Regions from separate parts of the Homo sapiens genome. Here region 2 is linked to region 1. The links come from fine-mapping of genetic effects on gene expression. Tissue or cell type: subcutaneous fat. Region 1 holds a variant in brackets; the other region holds the start of a gene. All regions are shown on one strand. Distances are from middle to middle.

What was found. PIP is the estimated chance that this variant, and not a neighbour inherited with it, causes the effect.
Region 2: it holds the start of DYNLT5, and the variant in region 1 is fine-mapped to the expression of DYNLT5 in subcutaneous fat (GTEx, PIP above 0.99).

Annotation. Positions count from the first base shown.
Region 1 is chr1:66,776,916-66,785,423 of GRCh38, reverse strand. DYNLT5 (dynein light chain Tctex-type family member 5) reads right to left here. Exons shown (of 5, transcript NM_152665.3): 5 at 6,377-8,173. The coding sequence ends at 7,970. Among named protein-coding and RNA genes, the nearest start is that of INSL5, 20 kb to the left of the region's middle. The variant G/T (reference allele first, on the strand shown) is at 4,166.
Region 2 is chr1:66,748,105-66,756,612 of GRCh38, reverse strand. It overlaps DYNLT5 (dynein light chain Tctex-type family member 5), which reads right to left and starts at 4,154. Exons shown (of 5, transcript NM_152665.3): 1 at 4,029-4,154; 2 at 1,836-1,957. The coding sequence starts at 1,954. SGIP1 (SH3GL interacting endocytic adaptor 1) reads right to left here. Exons shown (of 25, transcript NM_032291.4): 25 at 5,474-8,508.

The DNA of each region.
Region 1 (8,508 bases):
GCCCTTTGTCAGATGAGTAGGTTGCGAAAATTTTCTCCCATTTTGTAGGTTGCCTGTTCACTCTGATGGTAGTTTCTTTTGCTGTGCAGAAGCTCTTTAGGTCAATTAGATCCCATTTGTCAATTTTGGCTTTTGTTGCCATTGCTTTTGGTGTTCTAGACATGAAGTCCTTGCCCATGCCTATGTCCCGAATGGTATTGCCTAGGTTTTCTTCTAGGGTTTTTATGGTTTTAGGTCTAACATTTAAGTCTTTAATACATCTTGAATTAATTTTTGTATAAGGTGTAAGGAAAGGATCCAGTATCAGCTTTCTCTATATGGCTAGCCAGTTTTCCCAGCACCATTTATTAAATAGGGAATCCTTTCCCAATTGCTTGTTTTTGTCAGGTTTGTCAAAGATCAGATGGTTGTAGATATGTGTCATTGTTTCTGAGGGCTCTGTTCTGTTCCATTGATCTATATCTCTGTTTTGGTACCAGTACCATGCTGTTTTGGTTACCGTAGCCTTGTAGTATAGTTTGAAGTCAGGTAGCGTGATGCCTCTGGCTTTGTTCTTTTGGCTTAGGATTGACTTGGCGATGCGGGCTCTTTTTTGGTTCCATATGAACTTTAAAGTAGTTTTTTCCAATTCTGTGAGGAAAGTCATTGGTAGCTTGATGGGGATGGCATTGAATCTATAAATTACCTTGGGCTGTATGGGCATTTTCACAATATTGATTCTTCCTACCCATGAGCATGGAATGTTCTTCCATTTGTTTGTATCCTCTTTTATTTCATTGTGCAGTGGTTTGTAGTTCTCCTTGAAGAGGTCCTTCACATCCCTTGTAAGTTGGATTCCTAGGTATTTTATTCTCTTTGAAGCAATTGTGAATGGTAGTTCACTCATGATTTGACTCTCCGTTTGTCTGTTATTTGTGTATAAGAATGCTTGTGATTTTTGTACATTGATTTTGTATCCTGAGACTGCTGAAGTTGCTTATCAGCTTAAGGAGATTTTGGGCTGAGACAATGGGGTTTTCTAGATATACAATCATGTCATCTGCAAACAGGGACAATTTGACTTCCTCTTTTCCTAATTGAATGCCTTCATTTCCTTCTCCTGCCTAATTGCCCTGGTCAGAACTTCCAACACTATGTTGAATAGGAGTGGTGAGAGAGGGCACCCCTGTCTTGTGCCAGTTTTCAAAGGGAATGCTTCCAGTTTTTGCCCATTCAGTATGATATTGGCTGTGGGTTTGTCATAGATAGCTCTTATTATTTTGAGATACGTCCCATCAATAGATAATTTATTGAGAGTTTTTAGCATGAAGGGTGGTTGAATTTTGTCAAAGGCCTTTTCTGCATCTATTGAGATAATCATGTGGTTTTTGTCTTTGGCTCTGTTTATATGCTGGATTACATTTATTGATTTGCATATGTTGAACCAGCCTTGCATCCCAGGGATGAAGCCCACTTGATCATGGTGGATAAGCTTTTTGATGTGCTGCTGGATTCATTTTGCCAGTATTTTATTGAGGATTTTTGCATCAATGTTCATCAAGGATATTGGTCTAAAATTCTCTTTTTTGTTTGTGTCTCTGCCAGGCTTTGGTATCAGGATGATGCTGGCCTCATAAAATGAGTTAGGGAGGATTTCCTCTTTTTCTATTGATTGGAATAGTTTCAGAAGGAGTGGTACCAGCTCCTCCTTGTACCTCTGGTAGAATTCAGCTGTGAATCCATCTGGTCCTGGACTTTTTTTGGTTGGTAAGCTATTGATTATTGCCACAATTTCAGATCCTGTTATTGGTCTATTCAGAGATTCAACTTCTTCCTGGTTTAGTCTTGGGAGGGTGTATGTGTCGAGGAATTTATCCATTTCTTCTAGATTTTCTAGTTTATTTGCGTAGAGGTGTTTGTAGTATTCTCTGATGGTAGTTTGTATTTCTGTGGGATCAGTGGTGATATCCCCTTTATCATTTTTTATTGCATCTATTTGATTCTTCTCTCTTTTCTTCTTTATTAGTCTTGCCAGCGGTCTATCAGTTTTGTTGATCTTTTCAAAAAACCGGCTCCTGGATTCATTAATTTTTTTGAAGGGTTTTTTGTGTCTCTATTTCCTTCAGTTCTGCTTTGATTTTAGTTATTTCTTGCCTTCTGCTAGCTTTTGAATGTGTTTGCTCTTGCTTTTCTAGTTCTTTTAATTGTGATGTTAGGGTGTCAATTTTGGATCTTTCCTGCTTTCTCTTGTGGGCATTTTGTGCTATAAATTTCCCTCTACACACTGCTTTGAATGTGTCCCAGAGATTCGGGTATGTTGTGTCTTTGTTCTCGTTGGTTTCAAAGAACATCTTTATTTCTGCCTTCATTTCGTTATGTACCCAGTAGTCATTCAGGAGCAGGTTGTTCAGTTTCCATGTAGTTAAGCGGTTTTGAGTGAGTTTCTTAATCCTGAGTTCTAGTTTGATTGCACTGTGGTCTGAGAGACAGTTTGTTATAATTTCTGTTCTTTTACATCTGCTGAGGAGTGCTTTACTTCCAACTATGTGGTCAATTTTGGAATAGGTGTGGTGTGGTGCTGAAAAGAATATATATTCTGTTGATTTAGGGTGGAGAGTTCTGTAGATGTCTATTAGGTCCGCTTGGTGCAGAGCTGAGTTCAATTCCTGGGTATCCTTGTTAACTTTCTGTCTCGTTGATCTGTCTAATGTTGACAGTGGGGTGTTAAATTCTCCCATTATTATTGTGTGGGAGTCTAAGTCTCTTTGTAGGTCACTAAGGACTTGCTTTATAAATCTGGGTGCTCCTGTATTGGGTGCATATATATAGTTAGCTCTTCTTGTTGAATTGATCCCTTTACCACTATGTGATGGCCTTCCTTGTCTCTTTTGATCTTTGTTGGTTTAAAGTCTGTTTTACCAGAGACTAGGATTGCAACCCCTGTCTTTTTTTGTTTTCCATTTGCTTGGTAGATCTTCCTCCATCCCTTTATTTTGAGCCTATGTGTGTCTCTGCATGTGAGATGGGTTTCCTGAATACAGCACACTGATGGGTCTTGACTGTTTATCCAATTTGCCAGTCTGTGTCTTTTAAATGGAGCATTTAGCCCATTTACATTTAAAGTTAATATTGTTATGTGTGAATTTGGTCCTGTCATTATGATGTTAGCTGGTTATTTTGCTTGGTAGTTGATGCAGTTTCTTCCTAGCCTTGATGATCTTTACATTTTGGCATGTTTTTGCAGTGGCTGGTACTGGTTGTTCCTTTCCATGTTTAGTGCTTCCTTCAGGAGCTCTTTTAGGGCAGGCCTGGTGGTGACAAAATCTCTCAGCATTTGCTTGTCTGTAAAGGATTTTATTTCTCCTTCACTTATGAAGCTTAATTTGGCTGGATATGAAATTCTGGGTTGAAAATTCTTTTCTTTAAGAATGTTGAATATTGGCCCCCACTCTCTTCTGGCTTGTAGAGTTTCTGCCGAGAGATCTGCTGTTAGTCTGATGGGCTTCCCTTTGTGGGTAACCTGACCTTTCTCTCTGGCTGCCCTTAACATTTGTTCCTTCATTTCAACTTTGGTGAATCTGACAATTATGTGTCTTGGAGTTGCTCTTCTCGAGGAGTATCTTTGTGGCATTCTCTGTATTTCCTGAATCTGAATGTTGGCCTGCCTTGCTAGATTGGGGAAGCTCTCCTGGATAATATCCTGCAGAGTTTTTTCCAGCTTGGTTCCATTCTCCCTGTCACTTTCAGGTACACCAATCAGATGTAAATTTGGTCTTTTCACATAGTCCCATATTTCTTGGAGGCTTTGTTCATTTCTTTTTATTCTTTTTTCTCTAAACTTCCTTCTCGCTTCATTTCATTCATTTCGTCTTCCATCACTGATACCCTTTCTTCCAGTTGATCACATCGGCTCCTGAGGCTTCTGCATTCTTCACGTAGTTCTCGAGCCTTGCCTTTCAGCTCCACCAGCTCCTTTAAGGACTTCTCTGCATTGGTTATTCTAGGTATCCATTCATCTAACTTTTTTTCCAAAGTTTTTAACTTCTTTGCCATTGGTTTGAATTTCCTCCTGTAGCTCAGAGTAGTTTGATCATCTGAAGTCTTCTCTCAGCTTGTCAAAGTCATTCTCCATCCAGGTTTGTTCCATTGCTGGTGAGGAGCTGCGGTCCTTTGGAGGAGGAGAGGC[G/T]CTCGCTTTTTAGAGTTTCCAGTTTTTCTGCTCTGTTTTTTCCCCATCTTTGTGGTTTTATCTACTTTTGGTCTTTGATGATGGCGATGTACAGATGGATTTTTGGTGTGGATGTCCTTTCTGTTTGTTAGTTTTCCTTCTAACAGACAGGACCCTCAGCTGCAGGTCTGTTGGAGTTTGCTAGAGGTCCACTCCAGACCCTGTTTGCCTGGGTATCAGCAGCGGTGGCTGCAGAACAGCGGTGGCTGTAGAACAGCGGTGGCTGTAGAACAGCAGTGGCTGTAGAACAGTGGATATTGGTGATCTGCAAATGCTGCTGCCTGATCGTTCCTCTGGAAGTTTTATTTCAGAGAAGTACCCGACCATGTGAGGTGTCAGTCTGCCCCTACTGGGGGGTGCCTCCCAGTTAGGCTGCTCGGGGGTCAGGGACCCACTTGAGGAGGCAGTCTGCCCGCTCTCAGATCTCCAGCTGCATGCTGGGAGAACCACTACTCTCTTCATAGCTGTCAGACAGGGACATTTAAGTCTGCAGAGGTTACTGCTATCTTTTTGTTTGTCTGTGCCCTGCCCCCAGAGGTGGAGCCTACAGAGGCAGGCAGGCCTCCTTGAGTTGTGGTGGACTCCACCAAGTTCGAGCTTCCCGGCTGCTTTATTTACCTAATCAAGCCTGGGCAATGGCAGGCGCCCCTCCCCCAGCCTCACTGCTGCCTTGCAGTTTGATCTCAGACTGCTGTGTTAGCAATCAGCGAGACTCCGTGGGTTTAGGACCCTCTGAGCCAGGTGTGGGATATAATCTCCTGGTGTGCCATTTTTTTAAGCCCATTGGAAAAGCGCAGTATTAGGGTGGGAGTGACCTGATTTTCCAGGTACCATCTGTCACCCCTTTCTTTGACTAGGAAAGGGAACTCCCTGACCCCTTGCGCTTCCCGAGTGAGGCAATGCCTCGCCCTGCTTTGGCTCGCACCCAGTGTGCTTCACCCACTGTCCTGCACACACTGTCTGGCACTCCCTAGTGAGATGAACCCGGTACCTCAGATGGAAATGCAGAAATCACCCATCTTCTGCGTTGCTCACGCTGGGAGCTGTAGACCGGAGCTGTTCCTATTTGGCCATCTTCCTTCTAATCTTAGTTCTAACCACTTATCTTCGTGAACACTGTGTTTTATCCAGCCTAGGCTTCCTGTAATCTTCTGCCTGTTGAAATTCTAATCTCTCCATCACAGTCTAGCTTAAATTTTCTTTCCTTTCATGAAGGCTTCCTTGATTCTGTTAATTGGATAAATGTATTCTGGATTTTTCTTATGACAACATATTTGAGCCTATACTGTGGTCACTTGTGTACTTCTCTTTTCACCCCTATAGGATCCTAGTTCCTCAGGGGTTGAACTGTGTTTGCTATTATCTATGCAGCTGGGAGTTATGTAGCACAGTGCAATGCACATAATGATAACTTTAAAAGTAAAAATGATTTTTATTTCTAGGCACTGTCAAGTTATGTGGTCCATGTCCTCAATATGTCTTCAGTCTATTAATAGTAAGGGAAACAAAACTAGAATTCAAAAGTTAGCTAGAGAACAATCAAGAGCTCAACCACGAGAATAATCAGAGGAGAGAGAGAGCAGGAGGCAAGCAGTGAATAGAGAAGGACTGAGAGAAAAGGTAAGACCTGAATGTGACCCTGAAAAGCGAAGAAAGTGGCTTAAGTGGGAGGGGGTGTTCCAAGGTAGGAAAGCATGAGTGAAGGCTCTGGAGCAGGGATGGGCATGGCTGGTCTGGGAAGAAGGATGGCACTTTAGGAGAGGAAAAAAATACCAGGGAAGTTCAGGGCATTTCAAAGTAAAACAATTCCTTCAAATTTATAGTGTCATTGTTTTAAAAATTTCTCATGATAAGGTTCTGTGTGATAATTTCATTAAAAATTTCTCATGATAAAGTTCTGTGTGATAACTAGCTTCTCCCAAGTTAGTTGCAAGGAGTGAGTTTTTACTATGTATTCTTATACTGCTATATAATTGCTAGAATTCATCACTGAGTATCTGAATTACAGTGTGTAGCAATATGCTGGCAAACTGCTTTCTTTTTTGTTTTTTAACTGCCGTCATGTTTTGCAGTTTCGATTCTCAACACAGCCTGGGGAAGACAGTAAGAAATTATCTCATGGATTAGAATTTAGAACTCTAAAACAAACAGTCATTGTTACAATAGACTTTGTATATGTTAAAGAAGTTTCTTCATTTTCATTTATTCATACAAAATTAGTGATATGATTACCCCCGCTGTTGTTCCACGAAGGGAGATGTTCACCAATGTGTAATGAAAATATGAAGCTCATTTACTTGTTATACGTGTAATCTAATCCAGATTGAAAACTGTTCTATGGAGATTGACAAATATTGGTTGTGATAAATTATTACATAGACATATTCCCACTAATGCACTAACAGAAAAAAAAAAGTGAAAATTGACAAATTCATTTTGAATAATCACTTTAAAAGCCAGAAAATAGCAGAAGGGAAGGGATTTTAAAAGTATCCATTTTTTACTACATGTCATTTTTAGGGAAAAGTAAGACACCAAAACATTTTAAAATTAAAGCATTAACTGGTTTTCCATTTGCTAAACTCTTTTTGATATGAATGATAAATCATTTTTTCCTTAAGACTACAGCATTGCTAATTTTCTCCATATGTGTACAATTTGTCTTTGACCTTTAACAAATGTCCTCTAGGCAGTCCACTTACCATCCAAGAACAACGCCACAACATCATTTTACTTGCACACAAAGACTTGAAAGCTTCATAAAAATAAATGATCCGTGGCGTAAGATACATTAACCAGCAGAATAATAAGCTATTTCAGCCCTGTAAATTTTAGCACCCGTCTATTCAAAAACCTCACTGGGTCACTTTAGTATTAAATTCATAGGAGTAAAATGGTAACTACACATGCTTTATTTGTTAAGGTGCCAGCCATATATTTTGTGAAAAAGTTTGTTAGCCTAGGATATTTAAAAGCAATGTCTCTTTCCAATAAATGATTTTATGTGTTACAGACACATTTAGTATTAAGCATCATGTATATTTAATATCACAATGTCTACTTCAGTGTCCCAAAAAGCCTTTATTCACTTTATAGTTTCCATTACTGAAGAGCCAACTTTCGGTTCTCCCACAATTGTGTAAAGTGCAGGCAAGCCACAAGAGCTTCTAGTTTTAGCTTGCAGCCCGTGGGACCACGATAATTGTTATGAAGCCATTAATTCTACCTCAGCAGTTTCAACTGTCAGGTACATGTAACAATAATTGCACTTAATGAATGCTGCTCAATTTATTAAGTACAAAATGAAAACCAGTATTCTTTTATATGCAGCACTGAGGCACATTATTTATCATTTGTGTATACCATGTTGAATATTCTACTATCATTTATTGGTCAGGGTATATAGCCATAGTTTTTCTAAAGCTTCTTTTTATTAAAAAACAATGCAGGAAATTGTAACACTCTAATTAAAGAATAATTAAAATAATTAGTACCAAAACAAATATTTAATAAGAATCTATGTCTATGGAAAGCAATCCAGCAAAACCAAGATCAAGTTCCTGCTTTAGATAAACAAGATTCTTTCTGTGGCTACCCTCCCCTCCCCAAATCTTTACTAGAATATGAAAAAATTCAAAAGCTTCCAGTTGCTTGAAATATCAGTGTTGTTTCTTTCTCAAAGTTTTTGGCAGTAAAACTTTTGTGTACAGACATACAGCCTGCCTCAGAATTTTCAAAAGTAAGAGCTAGATTTCTTATTTTCAATCACTCAAGGTAAACTGCATAGACATTTGCAAGAGCGAAGAGAGAAGAATTTCTGAAAACATAAGATGAAAAGGTATCACTTTTAGGATCCCAGAGGCATCTGCTTCCAATAAGTATGCTCTGCCTGTTCAGTTGTCCAATGTGAACAATCACAATTAGTTTATACCGTGGAATCATCAAGTCCTTGACCTGGGCTTTAATAACCTAGAAATTTAAAAAAAGGGAGGGTCTTCATTCAGCTACATTGAAACTCAAAAGCATTAACCTTTGTTATAAATATAAGGGATTTAATTTAATAGCATGATGCATTGTAGATACTTTCAGTGATTGTTTTAGAACCGTAAGTATGATTCCCTTCAAGCATGGTCCCCTTGAGATAGAACATTCAGGAACAAAATTTTAACACCAGCAATAAATCAACCTTTTCTAAGATACATGAAATAATTATAATCCAGAACACAGAATTTAATAAATTACATTCTTTGAAAATTTATGTTAAGATGGCTTCATGTCAAAGAATGTTGGCATTGGAGTTACAC
Region 2 (8,508 bases), 29 kb after region 1:
TCAGTGAGATAATGTATTCAGTCCTTAATAAACTTCAGAATGTTTTACATTATTGAAATTTATATTTTCAAAATTGTTTTAAAGTAATTTTCAAATGAAAGTTATATGTTTTTCCATAAAACACTGCAATTTCAAAACAATGCCTGTATTTGATAGTCACTAAGCTTTCAGAATTTTTCTACTAGTTGAAGCCTCATTCATGAAGGAGAATAACTTGTACTGTCTAATTCCAGACAGTGAGGAAGCCAATGGAAAGCAAGTATTAATACAAGTTAGCATGGGGTGGGGGAGCCTCCTAAATAGTCTGCATTGCAAGGGGACTTGGAAGCTGATCATTTGCTATTTAAGAAAAAAAGTACAAATAGAGGTTCCATTCTAAATGTTTTGTTTGGGAGTCCAAAACCAAAATAGTTATCATTTAAATGTAGTTGTCAGTGAAAAATCTATCCTAATGTGTTGATAAATATGATTTTTGTATTCTTATTTTTAATATGTATTTATATTCATCAATAATAGGTTAAAAAGAGTGATCTCTAATTCTTCAAATGTAGCCACACTCTGATTCTATATGACAAATTTGTTTTGAAGGGGAAAAGATAAGTAAAAGTCATGCAAATAGGAATTACAATTTAATCTTTGGAGACAGTATTTAAAAAAATATCATGGGTACGTAATTTATGTCAGACTATTACTTAAATAGTTTCTTGGAAAACGTAAGTTGAATTTAAGCCAACAATCAGTTTTAAATAATTTAAAAAATAACCCTTGCACTTAACTATTGGAAATAGCAGCCAGAAAAGTTTAGAAGCAAAAATTACAAAGATTAATCATTCTCCCACCTTTACTTCTGACATGTGCTGGGATTGCTACTCCTTTATAGTCAGTTTCCCACCTGTAAAAGGCATTGTATGTGTAATCCACAGACTTCCAGGGCTGGAATGTGGAGTTGCAAGTAGGCATTAATACACTCTGAGAATAGAAAGATTTTGGTTTCAGAATTCTAATTATTCCAGTTCTTCTACTCTCTGTTCTGCAGGACACCCTAGCTCCTGCTTCCCAATATATACTCAATATACAACATCCTCCAAAGCTATAGAAACTAAGAACGAAAGTCTATTATTAATTGACTGCTACGTCGATAATTTGTTTTGTTTTCTTCCCAACAGCAGTCAAAAGGAAATGCCATGAAAATATTAAAAATTGATGTATATCTTTAGGAGAGAAGATGCAACATGTAGCAAGAACCAAAAAATCTACTTATTGCCCTTTGACCTACTAATTATTCTTCTGGGAAATGACCAAGCACAGACATATAGTAAAAAAGAAAAAAAATGGAAACAAACTTAAAGTGTCCAATAATTAGAGAATGGTTAAGGAACCCAGAATCATAAATTGACAAAATATTATGCAGTCATTTAAGAGGATATGGAAAAAACTATGAAAATACATGACAAAATTATATACAATAATGTTAAGTACATTGTATATGTATGTATTGATTACAAAAATGCAAAACCTATGTTATAAAATATTGAGGAGAAGAACTCAAAAGACATATAAGCGTGTCTGGTTTACATTGCATGTGGTGTTTCTTTTGAGCAGAGGGTTTTTTGGGATGATTTTTGAAATAGCAAAAATGCTGCTAGGATTAACTTATCACTTAAGCTTTCTCTCTTTCTCTTTCTTTTTAAATATGGCCCCTAAAGATGACCTGCACCTTGTACTTGCCCATTTTATCTCTTTTTATGTCCCCGAGGAAGTGTTTTTTTCTCCTAATAAACATTACGAACCTATTTATTCAATAAATGAATTTACAATTTTAGACAGTTACTCACTCTTTGATGCGCCCATGAATTTCCTTTCGCCAAAATTCATGATTACTTAGAGAAGAAATACTCCCTCTTTTCTTCCATGAATGAGCTGCTCTGCCTTTAGCATTGTCTGACATCATCATAACCTATGGAAGAAGACTTTTGTAAAATAGCAAAAGAAAGATCCGGAAACATTTTAGTTAGTATAACAGGGACTAATCTCAAAGTACACAGATAGTTTTCCTACCATTTTTGAACAGGAAAGTGGGGTTTCCTCAAGAGCAATATATAGAATTTGTTGTTATTCTGATCAGTGAAACTGGAACTATGATAACTCTGAAAATGCTTATTTATGCAATAGTATAATTATTTACATAAGCAGATATTAAGCTATAGCAAAAATGCTTAGCTGATGAAGACGGAGGTCATTGACAAAAGATATGCATGTATAGCAGAAAGATGCTATCCTACATCAGAAACCAATATTTGTATTGCCCCCCAAATGTAACCATAATACAACTTTGCTAATTAATATTTGCTGTCACTGTTATATTTTATTTTTGAGACAGGGTCTTGTTCTGTCACCCAGGTTGGAGTGCAGTGGCATGATCATGGCTCACTACTGCCCCAAACACCTGGGCTCAAGCGTTCCTCCCAACTCAGCCACCTGAGTAGCTGGGACTGCAGGTGTATGCCATCAAGCTGGGCTAATTTTTAATTTTTTGTAGAGATAGGGTCTATGTTGCCCAGGCTGGTCTTGAACTCCTGGGATCAAGCAATCCTGCTTCAGCCTCCCAAAGTGCTGGGATTACAGGCATGAGCCACTCTACCTGGCCTATTTTATTATTTTAGAGACAGGATCTAGCTCTTGTTACCCAGGCTGGAGTGCAGTGGCATGATCATAGCTCACCGTAACTTCAAACTCCTGGGCTCAAGCGGTCCACCCACCTCAGCCTCCCTAGTAGCTAGGACTACAGGCCTGCACCACCATGCCTAGCTAATTTTTAAACATTTTTGTAGAGACAAGATCTTTCTGTGTTGCCCAGGCTGGCCTTAATCTCCTGGCCTTAAGTGATCCTCCTGCCTTGGCCTCCCAAAGTGCTGGAATTACAGGCATCAACCACTGTGCCTGACCCACCATGACTTTAAAAAATAAAATTAGGGGTAGGGAGCTAGAAAATAAATAAATAAATAAAAATTAAAATTAACCTTGCTTTCCCAAAGATTTTTTGTTGTTTGTTTTGTTTTCTCGAGCAACATTTACATAGTTTGTAAAGAGCAAATAGGACTTAACTTTTAAATAAATAATTTATTGGAAAACTCCCTCCTTCCTACTAATACTTGTTAAAAAGCTGGTAGTAGCAATGGACTTCCCAGAACTTGGACTATAACTCTAATAATGCCCTCATTGTCTACCTACAAATTTAAGTATTCATTTAAATTATTTCATAATCTATAAATGTGAGAGCCCCGATAAGGAAATACTGTGCTAGACACCAAAGCATAAAAATAGAAGAGAATCCATGCCTTCAAGGAGCTGGCAGTTGAGTAGGTAGGGCACACAAGAACATACCCTAAAACCCAGTGGCATCAATGTCAGAGCAGAGGTGCTGTGTGTGGGTGAGGCAGGCAGCGTGGTGTGTGTGTGCACGTGAGTGTGAGCGTCCTTGAGTGTGTACCTGTGAGTGTGCATCTCTGTGTGTGCAGGTGCCTGTGTGTATAAGTGTGTCTGTGTTCGTGTGTACGAAGGTGAGTGTGTTTATGAGTGTGGAAAGACACACAGCCTGATTAGGTGGGTCATTCAGGTTTTGCTGCAAAGCCACATAGACCCATCTCGGCCTCAGCTGTTTCCAAAGCTGCCCTGCAGGCCGCCCCCTCCCCAAGAAAGGCCAGAGTTGGGACCTGGAGGTCCTCATGGGTGCGGCCAGCCACAGGAAGACCGCCCCGGGTCAGGGGATGACCTTGCTGGCCGGCTCTGCGTTGGCCATCACTCTTGAAGCCCAGCCCCCAGCCATGCAATGGGGCAGGGGACGAACCGTTGGGACCGACTTTCAGTTCCCAAATTTGGGATCATTTTTTCTTATGTGTTGGGGAGAGGAGGAATAAGGTGGCGGAGAGATCGGGGCCAAGTAGGGCCATTTCTCAACAAAGGGCCGATCCCTTGCCCCCTATCCTTCCTTTGGGGTCCAGACGCGCTGCAGAGAGAGGCGACCCTACCTGCAGCAGGGAGGCTTCGCCCGGAGCCTCCCAGACCTCCGGCACTGCAGACACTGCGCGCGGCGCGGCTCCCGCGTCCCAGGCTTCATTCAGCCGGCGGCCGCCCGCGCACTCTCCCTGGACTCTGAGGCCGGTCTCCAGGGTGACCTCAAACAGAGCCCTCGGCCCTCCCCGGCCGGACTTGGCCGCTGAGTGGCCCTCTGAGCTGCCCTAAGGATGTAGAGGATCTCATCTTCACTGCCCACTGGGGGTCACTCTGAGCCGGGCTGCGTCCTGGGTTGGCGGCGAGCTGGAGGGGAACTGGTTCATTGTGTAGCGAGGAAGACATTTGGGACTAAAGACATTTGCACCCCTAGGGCCCCTCATCAAGTTCCTTTTCCCGCAGACATCAGGGGCAGGAGTGGGAAGTGCTGCGGTTTCCTAGCACAGGAAATCCGAAGCGCAAAGACAAAGTAAAGTAGCCCTGCCCTTTTCCCGGCTCCTAACGCTGCTTCGCACGTTCCCCCTCCAAGGCACAGGCGGTGGAATGTGGAGGTAAATGAGCACTTACATTGGCCAGATACCCCAGATACCGACAAACATTGGGATTTAGTCGTCCCAATAACTCTGTCAAGAAAGGAATGTTTTCCCTTTAAAGGATTTGGAAAATTGAGATTCTAAAATGTTAAATAATATGCCCAAGGCCCCTGAAACTCATGGTCTTAACTCCAATGTGTTACAAACCGGGCTGGGTTCCTTCGCTTTCCTTAACAAGACTCTTCTGAGCCTGTTAATGTCTAAGAAGCTTTGAAATGAGGCTGTTTGGGGTTGAGGACCTACCTGCTGGTATGAATGGGCTTTTCCTCTTCTTCAGCGACTATCCCCAGCCTAAGCCTGGTTTGGGCCTCCCCAAACCAAAAGCAAACAAAATAAACACTATAGGGACCCTCCTGTAGTGGGCAATCATTGGAAGCAGAAACAAGATGCCTCCAAGCATCTAGCCAAGGGCATGGCTCTTGATGAGTGTCCTGCTGGAATTAGCATTAGCTGACAGTAATACATTGGGATTCCGGTGGAGCACAGTGTTAGGATAGTGTTGGAAGAAGAGAAATAGATATTTTTGCCCATCCCAATCTCTACTCACAGAAAGATAAGAACAGGAAAGGATTGTTGATTGAATATCTACTATGGACTAGATAGGAACTGCTAGGTGATGAATAAACATTATCTCATTGAATTTGTTCAGTGACTATGACATAGGGGACATTACTCTATTTTTTTTTAAGATAAGGAAATGTAGAATCGTTGAGTAACATGCTCAAGTCGATATTTAAATCACAGAGCTGAAATTTGTCTAACTCTTAACCCTTGACCTTTGACAGACCTTTGGCCCACCATCCCTACCCTAAACATGGAATGAAGTTTTCCAGAAATGCGGGTAAAATTTTAAGAGGCTGACAGCAAAAGATATTCACAATTCAATTTATTTTCATATTTTTCATTTATTTTCCAGAAAAAGAAATCACATTTCAGTAACAACTTACATATAGAATTAAACTTTGTTCTGGAATGGGAGCCCTAGTTGCAGTAACGTGTCATAATAAATAATTGCATATTCAGGATTTTGTGAAATAGGTGATTGGGAAAATTATGAACAAAAAACATTTACAAAAATTATTATTTACAAAGAGTGATATCCATACTATTTCTAACTTATAAGGCAAGTAATGTTAAGATGGTCTCATGATTATCTTCAACAAGTCAATTACACACTTTCCTGTCACCATTGCCCAGCAGAGAGCTTTGCTGCAATTCTGTGAAGGAGCAAGTAAGTCTTCGCTTCCGTTGTTGGTTTTCTCTTGAGCACAGCATAGAAGCAGTAAAGCTTTCATTACAGACTAAGCAGTAATGGCTGTCAGAAAAAAGTATACTCTTTTGAAATAGACGTGTAGGAAAAAGGCTGGGAATCAACATTTTGACTAAATTTTGAAAGTATCTTGAGTATTTTAATTCACAGTTTTGTAAGTATTTTATGCCCAAGGTATTTTTGTGAAATTATGTACTTAGTACAAGATTAAAAAGAAATTTAGTGTATTTTTGCTACATAGATCAAAGAGAGCTCTAAATAAAGGCTACCACCAAATCAAATTACACACAGCATTTTCCTTAATTGACAGGATTTCATTACCTATAGAAACACAGCAAAATCTTTCTGAGATTCCTAGATTCTTGCATTGTTCAAGTTTAAAAAAAATCAATGCCTTACATGGCCACTTAGTAAGAATGAAAATTAATATCCGAGTATTTAATTCATATGATCTTTTACTATACAAGTGAAAAACAAACAAAAACTCTTTTTAATCGAAAACAATAGTGTTCAAACAGCTTAAAAAGCCAGCTGTATACATTACTGCTTGGCCTGTGGTGAAGCTCTGTTCATAGATAAGATTAATATATCATCATATCAACACTTGGCTTTTTCAAGAAAAATTATTCAGCAGCAATTTTCCAATTCCCCTTAGACAGAGAGGAAAGAGACACACACACACACACACACACACACACACACCCCCACACACACACAGAGAAAGAGAGAGAGAGAGAGAGAGAATATGAATTAGATAGGAGCCAATCTCTTTCATGTATGTCCATTTAACAAAGCAAGAACTAAATTCTGACCTGAAAAATCAACACAGCTATATGAATTATCATTCTAGCAACTTGAAAAGGGAAAAAAATCTGACTTTGGATCTTGGGACAGTGGTTCTTGTGATAGTTACTTGTTGTATGATTTAAAATACCTTAGAGTGATGGTGAATGAATAACATCAAGCATTTACTTTGCGAGAAAAAAAATTCATAAAAGTAATGTAAAACTGAATGAGCGAGATGGAATTAACATTTGTATGATATACTCATTCAATGGAACGTTTAAAAATTATAAATGGCTTATGATCTATCAGGCTGATTCACAAACTCTGGATGGATTAAAAACTGAACTATCTTTAGAGAAATGTAAAGTGATTCAGTTTGATTCTTTTCTATATGATAACAGACAATTTAACCAGGAAGTTTTTAAAGAAACTTCGTTAATTTGGTATAAAAGTAACTGATTGGCAAAGTAAAGCAAAGCAAAAAAAGAAAAAAAAACAGCAAAAAAAAAACCCTATGAAATGCTCATTAAAAGAGTATAGAATCTCACAAAATCTGTGCTAAACAGTGCACTGCTCTTAGCTTTCCCCAAAGTGTTTTTAATATAATTTCTGACAAGCTGATGTAAAAATACTGTCAACATTGATCTATCATGATTCAGTTTCCTAAAGCTGTTTAGTAAAACGTTACTGGAGATTATTCACTGGCATTAATTCCACACGGCAAAGAATTGGAAACATCTTCAACAGATAGGGGTCTGATATGCTGGTCATAGGTGCAAGCCTTAAAAATAATACAAAAATTAAAATAATTTTATTGTTTTGTTTTGAATATTTTAGATGATAAAGTTAAATTCACTAAGAGATACTAATGAAATTTAAAATAGATAACAATTCATTTGAAATGACAGGAATTCTCTTAAAATTAAAACAAAATTCCAGAAGCATTTTTTTCAAAGCATTCCTGGTTATTTTATTTACAATTATTGAAGGATATATAAACTAGTGTTAAAAGAAAACTTTTCCAAAGGTTTCTCAAGGTGTGCTTAGAAAAAATTTTTTTTACCTGATTCAATAACTTTCTTAAGCTTCATTAAAACACTAACATTTATTGTCAATGTCCAAGGAGAGAGAATTATAGTATAGGACCATTTGTTCTCAGACCACAATGAACATCTTCCAGAACACAATTTGTAAAATACTGGAATATTGGTGAGCATAGCCCAAATACACTTTACTTCTTTTCTTTAAAACATTACGGGACATTTAAAAATATATTTGTTTTTTGCCAAAACATTTTTTACAAGGATAAAGATGTATTTAAGGTAGGCAAGGTATTACTCTAGGGATAGAAGGAGGCAGTTAGAAATCAAAGGAAAAATAATTTTAGAAGTTAAACCTAGAGAATAAATTATTATACCCATGGTCAATGCCAACAAATAGGTGTCTTTTCCTCATAGACATACCCATTTAGGAGAGAAATCAGATATTAAATGTGAGGGCCAATCAAGAGGTTCACCATGGTCAACTCAACAGACTTTACATTTGACATTCCTTCATGAAATATATTTAGATCTTAATTAGATGTCAGCAGTGCAACTCTAGCTTGCAGAAGATGACAGAACATTGAAGCAATGACACAAGAGAAAGGCAAGTGTTTTGTTGTTGTTTTTAATATTTAGAGACTTAAGCAATGTACTCCTATCTCATTTTCCTTCCATACACTCCACTGACAAAAAGGAACATTAATGGTAGCCATATTTAATTCATAAGTGAGAGAATGGCATTTAGATACTGTTTTCCACATGAAAAAAAAGCCTAAAGGAGCAGGGAAAATACAATAAAACCTTA